Regions from separate parts of the Homo sapiens genome. Here all the other regions are linked to region 2. Evidence: fine-mapped expression QTL. A gene starts in region 2. Each other region holds a variant in brackets. All regions are shown on one strand. Distances are from middle to middle.

Region 1 (5,221 bases), 47 kb before region 2:
CAAGATCTTTCCACATTAATACAAATAGATGTGCCTGGTTTTATTTATTTTATTTAATTAATTTATTTTTGAGACAGAGTCTCACTCTGTCACCTAGGCTAGAGTGCAGTGGCGTGATCTTGGCTCACTGCAACCTCCACCTCCTGGGTTCAAGCAATTCTCCTGCCTTGCCTCCCAAGTAGCTGGGATTACAGGCACCCACCACCACGCCCAGCTACTTTTTGTATTTTTAGTAGAGAGGGGGTTTCGCCATGTTGGCCAGGATGGTCTTGAACTCCTGACCTCAGGTGATCCACCCGCCTCGGCCTCCCAAAGTGCTGGGATTACAAGCGTGAACCACTGCACCTAGCTCATTTTATTTTTATAATGCCCATAAAGCATCAAACTGTGTGAGCACACCATCATAAGCATAACCAGTTCCCTCCTGATAAACATTTAGGTTATTCCTAATGTTTTGTTATTCCAAACACTACTGCAATTAACATCCTGGAGCAGACCTGACATCAGCCTCAGGCGTCCATGTCTACATGTGAGATAAATTCCTGAGAGAAAAACCTGCCAAGTCAGAAGCGATCTGCATTTGTCATTTAGAAAGACGTTTCCAAATTGCACCCCAATTTCCCTCCCCTGCAACTGATTGACCAACCATTTCTCAAAAGGGCTTTTTGAGCACTCTCTCTCTCTCTCTCTCTTGCTGTCTCTGTATTTTTTTAATGTTTGACAGCAAGAAGATAGTCATGTCTTGCTTATGTAATTAAAATTAAACAAGCCCTTCGTTAAAAACACACAAACCCAGGAAGAAGAGAAACCAGCAAGGCCAGTTCAGGCAGATCCACCCTGCCCCTTGTCACACCTGCCTTGTCCCCAGCAAGCCCTGAAAAAGAGGCTGAAATCAATTTCTCACACATGGACCTCAGACATCAAACCTTGGAAAAAATACAGGAAAGAGATTTTGTAACTTTCCCCCTCTGTGGCTTTTCGTACGGCTAAACCCTCTCACTCTCTCTTCCCTTTCTTTCTCCTCGTCCTTTTTCTTCTTTCTCTCACTTCTGTTTTGGTGAGCTGTCATTAAAAACACTTTAAAGCCGTGTCCAGTCTAATAAGTTATACAGAATCTGGCTGTGTGTGTGTGTGTGTGTGTGTGTGTGTGTGTGTGTGTCTGTGTGTGAGAGAGAGAGAAAGAGAGAGAGACAGAGTCTCACTCTGTCGCCCAGGCTGGAGTGCAGTGGTACAATCACAGCTCACTGCAGCCTCCGCCTTCCGGGTTCAAGTGATTCTCCTGCCTCAGCCTCCCAAGTAGCTGGGATTGTAGGCGCGCACCACCAAGCCTGGCTGATTTTTTTTTTTTTTTTTTGAGACAGAGTCTCACTCTGTCACCCAAGTTGGAGTGCAATGGCACAATCTTGGCTCACTGCAAGCTCCGCCTCCCAGGTTCAAACGATTCTTCTGCCTCAGCCTCCTGAGTAGCTGGGACTACAGGAGTCCGCCACCACGTCCAGCTAATTTTTGTATTTTTAGTAGAGACAGGGTTTTACCATATTGGCCAGACTGGTCTTGAACTCCTGACCTAAGGTGATCCGCCCGCCTCGACCTCCCAAAGTGCTGGGATTACAGGCGTGAGCCACCATGCCCAGCCGATTTTGTTGCATTTTTAGTAGAGATGGGGTTTCGCCATATTGGCCAGACTGGTCTCGAACTCCTCACCTAAGGTGATCCGCCCGCCTCGACTTCCCAAAGTGCTGTGATTACAGGCGTGAGCCACCATGCCCAGCCGATTTTGTTGCATTTTTAGTAGAGATGGGGTTTCGCCATATTGGCCAGACTGGTCTCAAACTCCTGACTTCAAGAGATCCACCCGCCTCGGCCTCACAAAATGTTGCGATTATGGGTATGAGCCACCACACCTGGCCAGAATCTGGTATTTTTAACAGAAAGCAGAGCTAGGAGCTTAAAAGTAGAAACTAGATGAGCAAAACAATTGATTATATTTGAAACACATTAAGCTCTTCTTTTCTCTTCTCCTCCTGAACACAAGCAAGTAACTGTCTGGAAGGAGGTTGGAGGGGTTGCGGTGGGGGAGCGGGAGTCTCAGGGCCCATAATGGGTTTCAGAGGCCAAGATGGATAAGGAGGTCATCCTCCCAAGAAGATGGGAAGGCTGGACAGTGACAGCTGCAAAAGATTGGTTACTTTCAGGGGGATGGATCCGCTAAGTAAATATATTGCCAGCCTGGCCAACATAGCGAATTCCCATCTCTACTAAAAATACAAAAATTAGCCGGGCGTGGTGGTGTGCACCTGTAGTCCCAGCTACTCGAGAGGCTGAGGCAGGAGAATTGCTTGAACCTGGGAGGCAGAAGTTGCAGTGAGCCAAGATCACGCCACTGCACTCCAGCCTGGGCAACAGAGTGAGACTCCATCTCAAACAACAACAAAAAAAAGCATTGGAAGCCAGATTTCTTTTTTTTGAGACAGTGTCTTGCTTTGTCACCCAGGCTGGAGTGCAGTGGCACCATCATGGTTCACTGCAACCTCGGCCTCCAGGGTTCAAGCGATCCTCCCACCTCAGCATCCCCAAGTAGCTGGGACTACAGGCACGTGCCACCACACCTGGCTAATTTTTAATGTATTTTTCTTAGAGACGAGGTTGCCCAGGATGGTCTTAAATTCCTGGACTCAAGGGATCCGCCTGCCTCAGCCTCCCAAAATGCTGGGATTACAAGCATGAGCCACCACGCCCAGCTGAGTGGTAGGGATTTTGAGCTGGGGTGAATGGCGATTGTAGGTCATTTGCATTTTTAATCGGCTTTACCCAGAAGAGAAGGCAACTTTCTTCTGTCTTCATGACAGGAGGTATTTTACAACTGAGAGCTGAGTCATGTACCAAAGTTAGGCTCTCACCTTCC[TG/T]GGGGGAGATAGGAGTGCTATTTCCTTTTATGTTTACAATTTCAAAAAGATAGTTTCCTGGGTCCTGGTCACTCATCCCTGTAATCCCAGCATTTTGAGAAGCCAAGGCAGGAAGATAGCTTGACCCCAGTTCAAGATCAGCCTGGGCAACATAGTGAGACTCCATTTCCTGGGCTATCAACTGGCAAGATACTTTTTTTTTCTTTTTTTTTTTGTGACAGAGTGTCATTTTGTCGCCCCCAGGCTGAAGTGCAATGGCGTGATCTTGGCTCGCTGCAACCTCCGCCTCCCAGGTTGAAGCGATTCTCATGCCTCAGCCTCCTGAGTAGCTGGGATTACAGGCACTTGCCACCACACCTGGCTAATTTCTGTATTTTTAGTAGAGACGGGGTTTCAACATGTTGGTCAGGCTGGTCTTGAACTCCTGACCTCGTGATCCACCCGCCTTGGCCTCCCAAAGTACTGGGATTACGGGCGTGAGCCACCGCGCCCGGCCAAGACTTTTAAAGAGGTTTATATCCATCTCAAATGGACAAAGAAATAATTTACAATGACAAGTTTTCTCAAGTAAATGCTCTAAGAAAAGGGAGGTAAGGGGCCTCTGTGGTTAGACCCTCTGGATTCTGAGGGCCTAGAGGCAGGAGGAAGCCTGTCTAAAGTTTAGTCAAGCTGAGGGAAACATTATGGCAGTGTTGGTACACTCTGTAAAGCTGACCTGCCCGTGTTCAAATCCGAGCTCCACTGCTTAATAGCTGAGTGACGTGGGGCAAGTTTCTTAACCTCTCTAGCCCTGATTTCCCCATCTTGTAAAATGCAGGTGATTAACACTTACTTCATAGGATGGTTTTGTAGATTAAATATATTAATCCAAGTACAGCACTTAATACAGTACCTGGCACATAATCAATGTATTATTTGCTGTGGGTAATTACTTCATCATTCTGAGCCTCAGTTTCCCCAATCATCCCATCTGAAAATATGTGGAAAAGTCAATGAGATGATGGCTGTAAACTGATAGCATAGACTTGGCATCTAGTAAGACTGTCTTTAATCACTAACACAGCTGGGCACGGTGCCTCACATCTGTAATCCCAGCACTTGAGAGACAGAGGCAGGAGGATCATCTGAGCCCAGGAGTTCGAGACCAGCCTGGGTAACATAGTGAGACGCCAATCTCTACAATACAAATAAAAGTTAAATTAAAATTTAAAAATCTCTGCCGGGCATGGTGACTCACGCCTGTAATCCCAGCACTTTGGGAGGCCAAGGTGGGTGGATCACCTGAGGTCAGGAGTTTGAGACCAGCCTGACCAACATGGAGAAACCCCATCTCTACTAAAAATATAAAATTAGCCAAGCATGGTGGCACATGCCTGTAATCCCAGCTACTCGGGAGGCTGAGGCAGGAGAATCGCTTGAACCTGGGAGGGGAGGTTGTGGCGAGCTGAGATTGTGCCATTGCACTCCAGCCTGGGTAACAAGAGCAAAACTCCATTTCAAAAAAAAAAAAAAAGAAAAATCATTAATACTCCCAACACTACATTTACCATCACTGATGTTTCCCTCTATACATGTATTGCAATATATGTGTTTCAGAATAAGAGCTCATACTCTTATTGATGTTCTATTTTGTTGCTATTCTCCTTATTTGCTATTGTTTTGTTGTTACCTCACACTACTCCCCATTATCAATAGTAATATTGGCTATCAATAGCAATATTGGCAATATACTGTTATGATCTCACTATTCCCCACATCTGATCCTCCTCCCATCAAGCAGTCGCAAAGCCTACCAGGAACTCTCTCATTCCCAAACCAGGCTTTTCCCCTCCAGTGCCTCTAGGGCCAGGCCTTCATCTGATTGGAAGGAGATGGAGGTGGGGCTCAAGCCCCAGGTCCCCAACATCAAGCAAAGACCAACAGCAGCACCCCCGGGTCCTACAGACAAGTGGGACACAGTAGGTAAGCCCAGTTAATGACTTTTTTTTTTGAGACGGAGTTTCACTCTTTGCCCACGCTGGAGTGCAGTGGCGTGATCTCGGCTCACCGCAACCTCCACCTCTTGGGTTCAAGCGATTCTCCCGCCTCAGCCTCCCGAGTAGCTGGGATTACAGGCATGTGCCACCATGCCCAGCTAATTTTGTATTTTTAGTAGAGACAGGGTTTCTCCATGTTGGTCAGGCTGGTCTCGGACTCCAGACCTCAGGTGATCCAGCTGCCTCTGCCTCCCAAAGTGCTGGCATTACAGGCATGAGCCACTGCACCCAGGCTTAATGACTCTTAGTAAACCAGATGAAGCCGGGTGCAGTGGCTCC
Region 2 (5,221 bases):
GCCCAGGGCCTGAACTACCGGATTCGAAGGGAGGATGGACTCCAGGGACCTGAATTTGGAGGGAGGAAGAGCGGAGGGCCTAAAATCTGATCCCACCCGAGGAAAAAGCTGGGAGTCCGGCTTTGCGGGTTCCGCTTGAGTTGGGGCCAGGCTTCCCAAGGGGTCCGCAGCCTCACCTCGATCCTCAGCTCCTTCCTCTGGCGCTGTAGCTCCTTCACTCGCTGCTCCATCAGGGCCACACGAGTCAATGCCTCCAGCTGCTGTCCTTGCAGGCGCCGCGCCGCCCCTCGCACCCCTTCCCGCGAAGAGGTGGATGCGGGAGGTGTGGCCGCCATAGCTATCGGAGGCGTAGCCTCGGGCTGAAGTTGAGGGGGGCGTGGTTAAGTGGAGATGCCTCGCCCCCTGCAATCACTAAGTAGGTCTGGTCCCCACCCAACATCACCCTCTGCGGGTCTCAGTCCATCAGTCCACTTACCTAACACAACCACCACTCCCATAATCTGTCGCAGGCTCTTTTCTTTTTCTTTCTTATCTTTTTTTTTTTTTTGTCCTGAGATAGGGTCTCACTGGCTGGAGTGCAGTGGCGCGATTACGGCTCACTGCAGCATCGACCTCCCTCGCTCAAGCGATTCTTCTGCCTCATCCTCCTAGGTAGCTGTGACTACAGGCGCGCACCGCCACGCCAAGCTCTTTTTTTTTTTTTTTTTTTTTGGCAGAGAGGGGGCGATGCTATGTTGCCCAGGCTGGTCTCAAACTCCTAGGCTCAAGGGATTCTCCCACCTCGGCCTCCCAAAGTGCTACGATTACAGGCATAAGCCACCGCGCCCGGCCTCAGACCCCTGTATTTAAGGTCGGAGTGGGGGAGGGTGCAAGTCCCGTGACCACCCAACCACACGGACCACAGAGGCTTGCAGTACCGTATGGAGGGTGAGCAGGTGTAAAGCCGACTTATGAAAGGTGTTTCTTTTTCTCTATCAGGTCCTATTCTCTTGGCGTCACTTTCTTGTAGTGCCTGGATCTGTCTCTGTCTCTCCACCTGACCCCAGTCTCTCAGATTCGGTATCTGTCCACTAGATCTGTCCACTAGAATCACTAGATCTTTCTTCCTCGGAGTATGTCCCTCTCTCGAGGTTTTTGTCTATTTGTTTCTCTGAGCATCTCTGCCATTTATTTCTGGGTTTCCCTCTGTCTCGATTCCCCTCTCTCTGACTCTAGTCTCACTGTGTCTCTGTCTTTTTGGGGTCTTTGTCTCTCAGTCTCCATGTCTCTGGGTCTCTGTCTGGCTTCTTGATCTCTCTGCATCTCTTACTCGTTTGGTTCTCTCTGTTCTGTAGTCTCTCCTGTCTGTCTATCTGGTCTCTCTCTCTCTCTCTCTCTCTCTCTCTCTCTCTCATTTTTAGAGATAGGTTCTGCTTTGTCCCAGGCTGGGGTGCAGTGGCGCAGTCATAGTTCACCGCAGCCTACAACTCCTGGGCTCAAGCGATCCTCCTGCCTCAGCCTCCCGAGTAGCTGGGATTACAGGCACGCGGCACTGCGCTTGGACAATTTTTGTATTTTTTTTTTCTCTAGAGACAGGGATTTGCTATGTTGCCCAGACTTGTCTCGAACTCCTGGGCTTAAGCAATCCTCCCCTCGGCCTCCCCAAGTGCTGGGATTACAGGCGTGAGCCACCTATCTGGTTCCTCTATACTAGTCTCTCTGTCTCTGTCGCCCGTTTGGGTCTATCTCCGTTCTTGGGGCCTCCCCGTGGCTCTATCTGGTTTCTGTCTCTGTATCTGGTTTCTGTCTGTCTGTGCCTCTGCCTCTCTGGCTCCGTGTCCTGGTGTATCTCTCTCTCAGTAGTCTCTGCTATCACTCGGTCTCTCTCCCTGTCTCCGGGTCTCTGTCTTTCTGGTTTCCCTCTACCTGTCTACCTGTCTGGCCACCTGTTTGGGTCCCCGTCGGTCCAAGCCCCCCGCGCTGTCGCCCTCGGGCCCCTCACCGCGTCGCGGCTGCTCTCAGTGCTGCTGCCTTCTCCCACTTCTTCTTCCTCTGCCTGCTGCTCAGCTCCCCCGCGGCTCGAAGGTTCCGCCAGGACTTCGGATGCCTCCTGTTCCCGGGACTCCTCGGGATGGCCCTGGGGCTGGACCTCCACGTCGCATTCCGGGACCAGCGGCGGCGGGGTCCCCTCCTCGGGGCTGCTTCGCGTCCCCATGGCCGCTGGGACTCCTGCGGGGTGGGCGGGACCAGAAGCTCCGGGGGCGGGGCCTAGGACGGCTGAGCGCCGCTCGCGTCTGCTCCGGGGCGCGGAGACCCCCCCCCAAGGAGGCGGGGCCTAAGAGTTCAAAGGATGGAACTGAGCGTTACGGAGGCGTGTCCTGAAGTTTCCAGAGGCGGGGCTTGATGGCTCCAAGGCGACACGCCACCGGAGACGGGACCGGAATTTGAGTCCGGGTCGTAGCACGCCCCCTACTGACCTCTTCGACCCCGCCTCCCCTCCCTCATCTCTAGGTGTCAGGCCTTGTACCCTCCCAGCAGCCCCCTACAATCTCTTGGATTCGCTTAGAGCGACCCATCTTCTCCCTCCGAGACTCAGCAGTTCGGCTCCCGCCCCATCCTTCCCGGAGCCCCGTAGTCTTAGTCCCGACCCCACTGTGCAGGGCAACCGTGCCCACGCCGCCTCACCCAGGGATCCAGGAGTCGGGGCTCTCCTTCTCTGAACAAGCCAGGAGTCGGAGTCCTTGAGATTCCGAAGTCCAACTGCCACCTCCCCACAGCCTCGGCCCCCTCACGAGCTCAGGCTTCGGCGCGCTCCGCTCTGCGCGCTGGGCACGGCCGCTTCTGCCTATGAGACAGGTGGCAGGGGAAGAGGGAGGAGAGAGGCCGCCCGGTCCCCCTCCCCAGCAGCCCGGAAGTGGAGGGGGGACAACAGGTCCAACAGCTCCCGAGGGAGGAGGGAGCCACGGGCTTGCCCCACCCGTGGCCTCGGCATCCGGCCATCCCGGCCCCACCGGCCCCGGCCCGGCCCCACCCTCGTGGAACTCAGCATCGCGACCTCCCAGTCTCCCTCGAGCCCCTCATTCCTGCCCCCCTGGAGGAGTCTTGGCCACCTCTGTATGGGAGCCTCTCTAATGTCCAGACCTTGGGAGTTCAGAAAGGAAGGCAGGAATGGAGATGGGGACGTCTCCCCTCTAATGAGCCCTTCAGAAGGGCCCTGACCGGTTTGGGGAGCTGGACAAGGGGAAGGGGTGCCCTGAACTGAGTCAGACACCTGCCCAGAGACTGAGGGAAGTGTACCGCCACCCCCCCACAACTTTGCTATGGGGTGGAGGGCAGAGGTTAAAGGTCTCAGCCAGACCCTTTCCTCTCTGGGCGAAAACAGGAAAATGAAAACAGGAAAATAACTGGTATATGAAAAGGGATGATTAGAAGTCAAGAGCTGTGTGAAACACTTTATACCCAGTCATTTAATTTCACCCTCAAAGCTGTCCAGCGAGAAAGTGATTACTACCTCCATTTCTTTTTTTTTAGTAGAGACTGGGTTTCTCCAGGTTGCCCAGGCTGATCTTGAACTCCTGGGCTCAAACAACCTGCCTGCCTCAGCCTCCCAAAGTGTTGAGATTACAGGCGTGAGCCACCGCTCCTGGCCTACTATCTCCATTTTACACTTGGGGATACAAGCTGAGGAGGACAAATGCACCCAAGGTTGGCTGGGCACAGAGGCTCAGGCCTGTAATCCCAGCACTTTGGGAAGCCGAGGCAGGTGGATTGCTTGAGATCAGGAGTTCAAGGCCAGCCTGGGCAACATGGAGAAACCCCATCTCTACTAAAAATACAAAAATTATGCCAGGCGTGGTGGCACACACCTGTCATCTCAGCTACTCCAGAGGCTGAGGCAGGAGGATATCTCGAGCCCAGGAGGTCGAGGCTGCAGTGAGTCTTGAATGTGCCACTGCACTCCAGCCTGGGCGACAGAGTAAGACCCCATCTCAGAAAAAAAAAAAAAAATGTAGCCAACATCTACACATGTTGTAAGTGGTAAAATGCAGGCTTCATTCTCTCAAAAGTCCATGTTCTTAACCATTGCGTATACTGTCACTACAAGCCAGGAAGTACCCAAAAGATCATTCTAAATGATAGTAACTTTAATGGTGAACACTGATAGGCCATGTGCCAGGCACTCACACACATTGACTCATCAGAGCATCACAACACCCCATTATTATTCCTTCCATTTTAGAGATAAGAAAACTGAGGCCTAGAGAAGTGAAGTAACTTACCCCAGGGCTAAGTGGGAAGTGGCTCAAAAGCAAGCCGGTGTTCTAATCCAAGGTGATGAGAAGACCTGCCCCAGATAGCTGTGTTTGTTTTTGATCTTGTGAGTTAGAAATCTTGTGGGCTCCCGGGCTGGGCGCGGTGGCTCACACCTGTAATCCCAGCACTTTGGGAGGCCGAGGCTGGTGGATCACGAGGTCAGGAGATCAAGATCATATTGGCTAACATGGTCAAACCCTGTCTCTACTAAAAATATGAAAAAATTAGCCGGGCATGGTGGCACGCGCCTGTAGTCCCAGCTACTTGGGAAGCTGATGCAGGAGAATCGCTTGAACCCGGGAGGCAGAGGTTGCAGTGAGCCGAGATCGTGCCACTGCACTCCAGCCTGGGCAATGGAGGGAGACTCCATCTCAAAAAAAAAAAGAAAAGAAAAAGAAAACAAATCTTGCAGGCTCCCTGGCCTCTCCATAGGACCAGAACCCCACCCCTTTCGGCCCAGAAACCCAATTGGTTCCCCCAGAAAATAGGTAGAAGTCAGACTCACGTTAAAAAAAGTTTTATTTAGGGAGCTCCAGGGAATGCGGTGGGAAAGGAGAGGTGCAGTGTCATTGCCGCCCTCTCCTCCCACCTAGTGCATTAATAGTGGATGGGAGCATCTGACAGAAGTGAGATCAGGCAGTGGGTGTCTGCACCCCACAGCGCATGTTGGCTGGAACAGCAAAGTCTGAAAGGAAGAAATCAAGGTTAAAACTAAGGGGCCTAGGTAGAGTTCCAGGCCCCACTGGAGACCCAGAAATCCTAGGAACCTTTCCTCTTCAGGAAACTAGAGTTTTGGTCCTGAGCCCACTCCTTCCCTCAGACCCAGGAGTCCAGTACCCCAGCCCCTCCTCCCTCAGACCCAGGAGTCCAGACCCCCAGCCCCTCTTCCCTCAGACCCAGGAGCCCAGACCCCCAGCCCCTCCTCCCT
Region 3 (5,221 bases), 55 kb before region 2:
TGTTTGTTTTGAGGCAGGGTCTTGCTCTGTCACCCAGGCTGGAGTGCGGTGGCGCAATCTCGGCTCTCTGCAGCCTCGTCATCCTGGGCTCAAGTGAACCTCCCACCTTTTGACACAGAAAAGTTGGCTTATCAGTGGTTCATTTTGTTAACCCATGTTCATGAGTTTCTTGTGATGTGCTAATTTACTGCTGATATTTAGGATAGTCCTGTTGATCCTAATAAATTCCTAATTGTTGTTCTTGTTTCATCGGTTCACCGTGAACCAGTGGATGTTGTCTCACTCTTATCCCTGATGCACACTGGCACTTTTATATGAAGTGCCCTTGATGACACTAGTGATGATGGTTGTCACTAGAGTGGTACTTGCATTCTGGATTATCTTACTGCACTTTAGCTTGCTAGGTGAGCACTCAAACTCCCTAGTAGCTGAGACCACAGGTGCGTACCACTCAGCTAATTTTTGTATTTTAGCAGAGATGGGGTCTCGCTATATTGCCCAAGCTGGGCAGACTCATGGGCTCAAGTGATCCTCCCATCTCAGCCTCGCATAGTGCTGGGATTACAGGCATGAGCCACCGCGCCCCACCAAGATGCCACTGTTTTTTGTTTGTTTTTCTGGGGCTTGGGGGGCTTTTTTGTTTTGTTTTTTTGTTGTGGGGGGAGTTCGAGACAGAGTATCACTCTGTTGCCCAGGCAGGAGTGCAGCGGCATGGTCTCGGCTCACTGCAACCTCCGCCTCCTGGGTTCAAGCGATTCTCCTGCCTCAGCCTCTTGAGTAGCTGGGATTAGTCAGGCCCGCCACCAGGCCTGACTAATTTTTTTTGTATTTTTAGTAGAGATGGGTTTTCACCATGTTGGCCAGGCTGGTCTCAAACTCCTGACTTCAAGAGATCTGCCTGCCTTGGCCTCCCAAAGTGCTGGGATTACAGGCGTGAGCCACCGCGCCTGGCCAATGCCACTGTTTTTGAGGTGGGAGGCTGGACTCACCTCCAGAGGTGGGACTTGGGTATGGGACCAAATTGAGGACTAGCTAAGCAGTTTCCCATAATACACGCCCACCAGTATGCCACGTCAGTTTACCGTTGCCATGGCAACACCTGGGAGTTACTGCCCCTTTCCATGCCAATAACCCCACAAGCCAAAAGTCATTACCCCTTCCCTAGAAATTTCTGCATAAACCGCGCCTTAATCTACATGTAATTAAAAGTAAGTATCGGGCTGAGCACACTGGCTCACGCCTGTAATCCCAGCATTTTGGGAGGCCAAAGCTGGCGGATCATCTGAGTGAAGAGTTTGAGACTAGCTTGGCCGACATTGTGAAACCCCATCTCTACTAACAATACAATAATTAGCCAGGCGTGGTGACGCCCGCCTGTAATCCCAGCTACTCAGGAGGCTGAAGTAGGAGAATTACTTGAACCCAGGAGGCGGAGGTTGCAGTGAGCCGAGATGGCGCCACTGACAGCACTCCAGCCTGGGTGATAGAGAGAGACTGTTGTCTAAAAAAAAAAAAAAAAAAAAAAAAAAAAAGGAGTCTATTTACAAGGGTGGAGGCAGTGGGTAGAAAGATACAGGCAGCCCAAGGCAACCGTACATCAAGAAGGGAGTTGGGGAAATAAATACCCACCCTCCAGTTTCTTGCCAGTGTCTCCCCATTGGGCAAACCGATGCAGAAAGCTAGAGGTTCAGAAAGCTCATTGTGGTTCATGCTGATCCCAAGGTATGGTCAGACTCCCAGGAGTATGGCGGGGAGAGGTGGAGAGTGGACCTGAAGAGGCAAACAAAAAATATCCAGCATAGTCCGGGCACAGCAGCTCACACCTGTAATTCCAGCACTTTGGGAAGCTGAGGTGTGAAGATCACTTGAGGCCAAGAGTTCGAGACCAGCCTGGACAACATAATGAGACTCATCTCTACAAAAAAAAAATTTTTTTTTAATTAGCCTGGCATGGTGGCATGCACCTGTAATTCCAGTTATTTCCAAGGCTGAGGAGGGAGGATGGCTTGAGCCTAGGAGTTTGAGGCTGCAGTGAGCTATGATTGTACCACTGCACTACAGCCTGGGCAACAGAGTGAGACCCTGTCTCAAAAAAAAAAGGGAAGAAAAGAAAAAAGAAAAACATCCAGCATAGTGTTCTATTTGTATTGTTATTGTATTTCTTATTGTGGCCTATGAGGCCCTTCAAGGTTTAGGCCTAACCTCTGCCTCCTCTTCCCACCCCACCCACTACATTCCTCTCTGAAACCCAGGGACTGACTGGGAAGGGATGGGAGACAACCTTCTGGAGTGATGGTGATGTTCTGATTCAAGATAAGGATTTTGGCGGCACGGGCCTGCACATTTGTCAGAATTCCTCTAACAATGTGCTTAAGTTTTGTGCATTTCAGCATATGTAAATTTTACCTGAAGAGGAGAAACTAAATAAATATGCTTTTCAACTTACTTTGAAATGCATTGAAAAGGCAAGAAGGAGTGATGGATAGATGGATGGAAAGGTGGGTAAATACTTGATAAAGCAAGTTGAGTAAGATGTTAATTAATTTAGAATCTAGGTGATGGGGCCAGGCACGGTGGCTCATGCCTGTAATCCCAGCACTTTGGGAGGCCAAGGCAGGCAGATGGCTTGAGTACAGGAGTTCGAGACCAGCCTGGGCAACAGGGCGAAATCCTATCTATCTCTACAAAAAAAAAATTAGCCAGGCGTGGTGGCACATGCCCCTAGTCCCAACTACTCAGGAGGCTGAGGTGGGAGGATCACCTGAGCCACAGAAGTCGAGGCTGAAGTGAGCCAAGATTGCACCACTACACTCCAGGCTGGGCTATGGGAGTGAGACCCTGTGTCCAAAGATAAAATAAAAATAGAGCTGGGCACGGTGGCTCACCCCTGTAATCCCAGCATTTTGGGAGGCCAAGGCGGA[T/C]GAATCACTTGAGGCCAGGAGTTCAAGACCAGCCTGCCCAACATGGTGAAACCCCATCTCTACTAAAAATACAAAAATTAGCCAGGCGTGGTGGTGGGCACCTGTAATCCCAGCTACTCAGGAGGCTGAGGCAGGAGAATCGCTTGAACCTGGGAGGTGAAGGTTGCAGTGAGCCCAGATCACACCACTGCACTCCAGCCTGGGTGACAAAGTGAGACTCTGTCTCAAAAATAATAATAATAATCATACAAATAGAATCTAGGTGATGGGTATATATGAGTGTTCACTGTAAGATTATTTTAACTTCTCTATGTTTTAAATAATTCATTTTAAACATCTGTGCAAAAGTAAAAATAAAAATTTGGGAAAGTGTTGAGTCAGCAAAGGAATTTGGATTGGATTGATTGGTTGGAGGAACCAAGAAGAAATGAATTGCTCTGGGACTTTCCACAGAAACCACAACCGCTTCCCTGCAGCATAGAGCTGGCCTCCAGGAACAAACTGTGCCAGCTCTCAAGTCTCAGTTCTCCAGAAAGCCTGTCAGGAAAAAAGTGCAGAGAAGAGAAAGAGACAGCACCCTTGCTTCTCAGAAATCCTGTGATGAACAGATCTGCCTAACATCTGAAGTCATGCACTATTCATTCGACAAACTATAATTGAAACCCTCCTCTGTGCCCAGCCCTGAGATGTGTGTGTGGCACTGACAACATAGCCCCAGCCCTTCCCTCAGGAGACTCAAAGTCCAGGGGCAGAGACAGACACATCTTCCAGTGTTATGGTTTGGCTCCATGTCCCCACCCAAATCTCATCTCAAATTGTAATCCCCATGTGTGAGGGAATGACCTGGTGGGAGGTGATTGGATCATGGGGACGGTTTCTCACATGCTGTTTTTGTGCTGATGAGGGAGGTTTCACGAGATCTGTTGGTTTAAAAGTGGCAATTTCCGGCCGGGCGCGGTGGCTCACGCCTGTAATCCCAGCACTTTGGGAGGCCGAGGCGGGCGGATCACGAGGTCAGGAGATCGAGACCATCCCGGCTAAAACGGTGAAACCCCGTCTCTACTAAAAATACAAAAAATTAGCCGGGCGTAGTGGCGGGCGCCTGTAGTCCCAGCTACTTGGGAGGCTGAGGCAGGAGAATGGCGTGAATCCGGGAGGCGGAGCTTGCAGTGAGCCGAGATCCCGCCACTGCACTCCAGCCTGGGCGACAGAGCGAGACTCTGTCTCAAAAAAAAAAAAAAAAAAAAAAAAAAGTGGCAATTTCCTTTGCTCTCTCTCTCTCTCTCTCTGTCTCTCTCTCTCTTTCTCTGCTGCCGCCATGTAAGACATGCCTTACTTCCCATTGACCTTCTGCCATAATTGTAAGTTTCCTGAGTCCTCCTCAGCCATGCAGAATTGTGAGTCAATTAAACCTCTTTTCAGTCCAGGCGCAGTGGCTCAAACCTGTACTCCCAGCACTTTGGGAGGCCAAAGCAGGCAGATCATCTGAGGTCAGGAGTTCAAGACCATCCTGGCCAACATGGTGAAACCCCATCTCTCCTGAAAATGCAAAAATTAGCCAGGTATGGTGGCGGACACCTGTAACCTCAGCTACTTGGGAGGCTGAGGCAGGAGAATTGCTTGAACCCGGGAGGTGGAGGTTACACTGAGCCAACTTCTCTCTACTGCACTCTAGCCTGGACAACAGAGTAAGACCTTATATTAAAAAAAATAATAATAAATAAAGGCCAGGCATGATGGCTCATGTCTGTAATCCCAGCATTTTGGGAGGCCGAGCCAGGCAGATCATGAGGTCAGGAGTTCAAGATCAGCCTGACCAACATGGTGAAACCCTGTCTCTACTAAAAAATACAGAAATTAGCTGGGCATGGTGGCACACGCCTGTAATCCCAGCTACTCAGGAGGCTGAGGCAGGAGAATCACTTGAATCCGGGAGGCGGAGGTTTCAATGAGCCGAGATTGTGCCACTGCACTCCAGCCTGGGCAACAGAGCAAGACTGTGTCTCAAAAAAAATAATAAATTAAAAAAATAAAAACCTCTTTTCTTTATCAATTACCCAGCCTCAGGTAGAATCTTTATAGCAATGTGAGACCAGACCAATACATCCAGATAGCAACAATCCCAAGTGATCAAAACAATAATGGGGGAAGCCCCAAATGAGGCATGTGACCCAGACTGGTGGTCAGGAAAGATACCTGATGGAGAGGACATCCAAGCTAAGTCTTAAAGAAAGAGTAGGTGTCACCAGGTAGAGACGGAAGGACAATGGAAAAGCATTCCAGGCAGAAGGAACAGCAAC

Evidence for each region.
Region 1: its variant is fine-mapped to the expression of PHLDB3 in prefrontal cortex (GTEx, PIP 0.97).
Region 3: its variant is fine-mapped to the expression of PHLDB3 in whole blood (TOPMed, PIP 0.96).

Annotation. Positions count from the first base shown.
Region 1 is chr19:43,455,028-43,460,248 of GRCh38, forward strand. No RefSeq gene overlaps it. Among named protein-coding and RNA genes, the nearest start is that of LYPD3, 8.0 kb to the right of the region's middle. The variant TG/T (reference allele first, on the strand shown) is at 2,906.
Region 2 is chr19:43,501,925-43,507,145 of GRCh38, forward strand. PHLDB3 (pleckstrin homology like domain family B member 3) reads right to left here and starts at 2,822. Exons shown (of 16, transcript NM_198850.4): 1 at 2,665-2,822; 2 at 1,982-2,208; 3 at 177-359. The coding sequence starts at 2,194. ETHE1 (ETHE1 persulfide dioxygenase) reads right to left here. Exons shown (of 7, transcript NM_014297.5): 7 at 4,795-4,978. The coding sequence ends at 4,926. RefSeq lists an enhancer at 1,958-2,480 and silencers at 2,109-2,358, 2,959-3,018.
Region 3 is chr19:43,447,313-43,452,533 of GRCh38, forward strand. No RefSeq gene overlaps it. Among named protein-coding and RNA genes, the nearest start is that of LYPD3, 16 kb to the right of the region's middle. The variant T/C (reference allele first, on the strand shown) is at 2,922.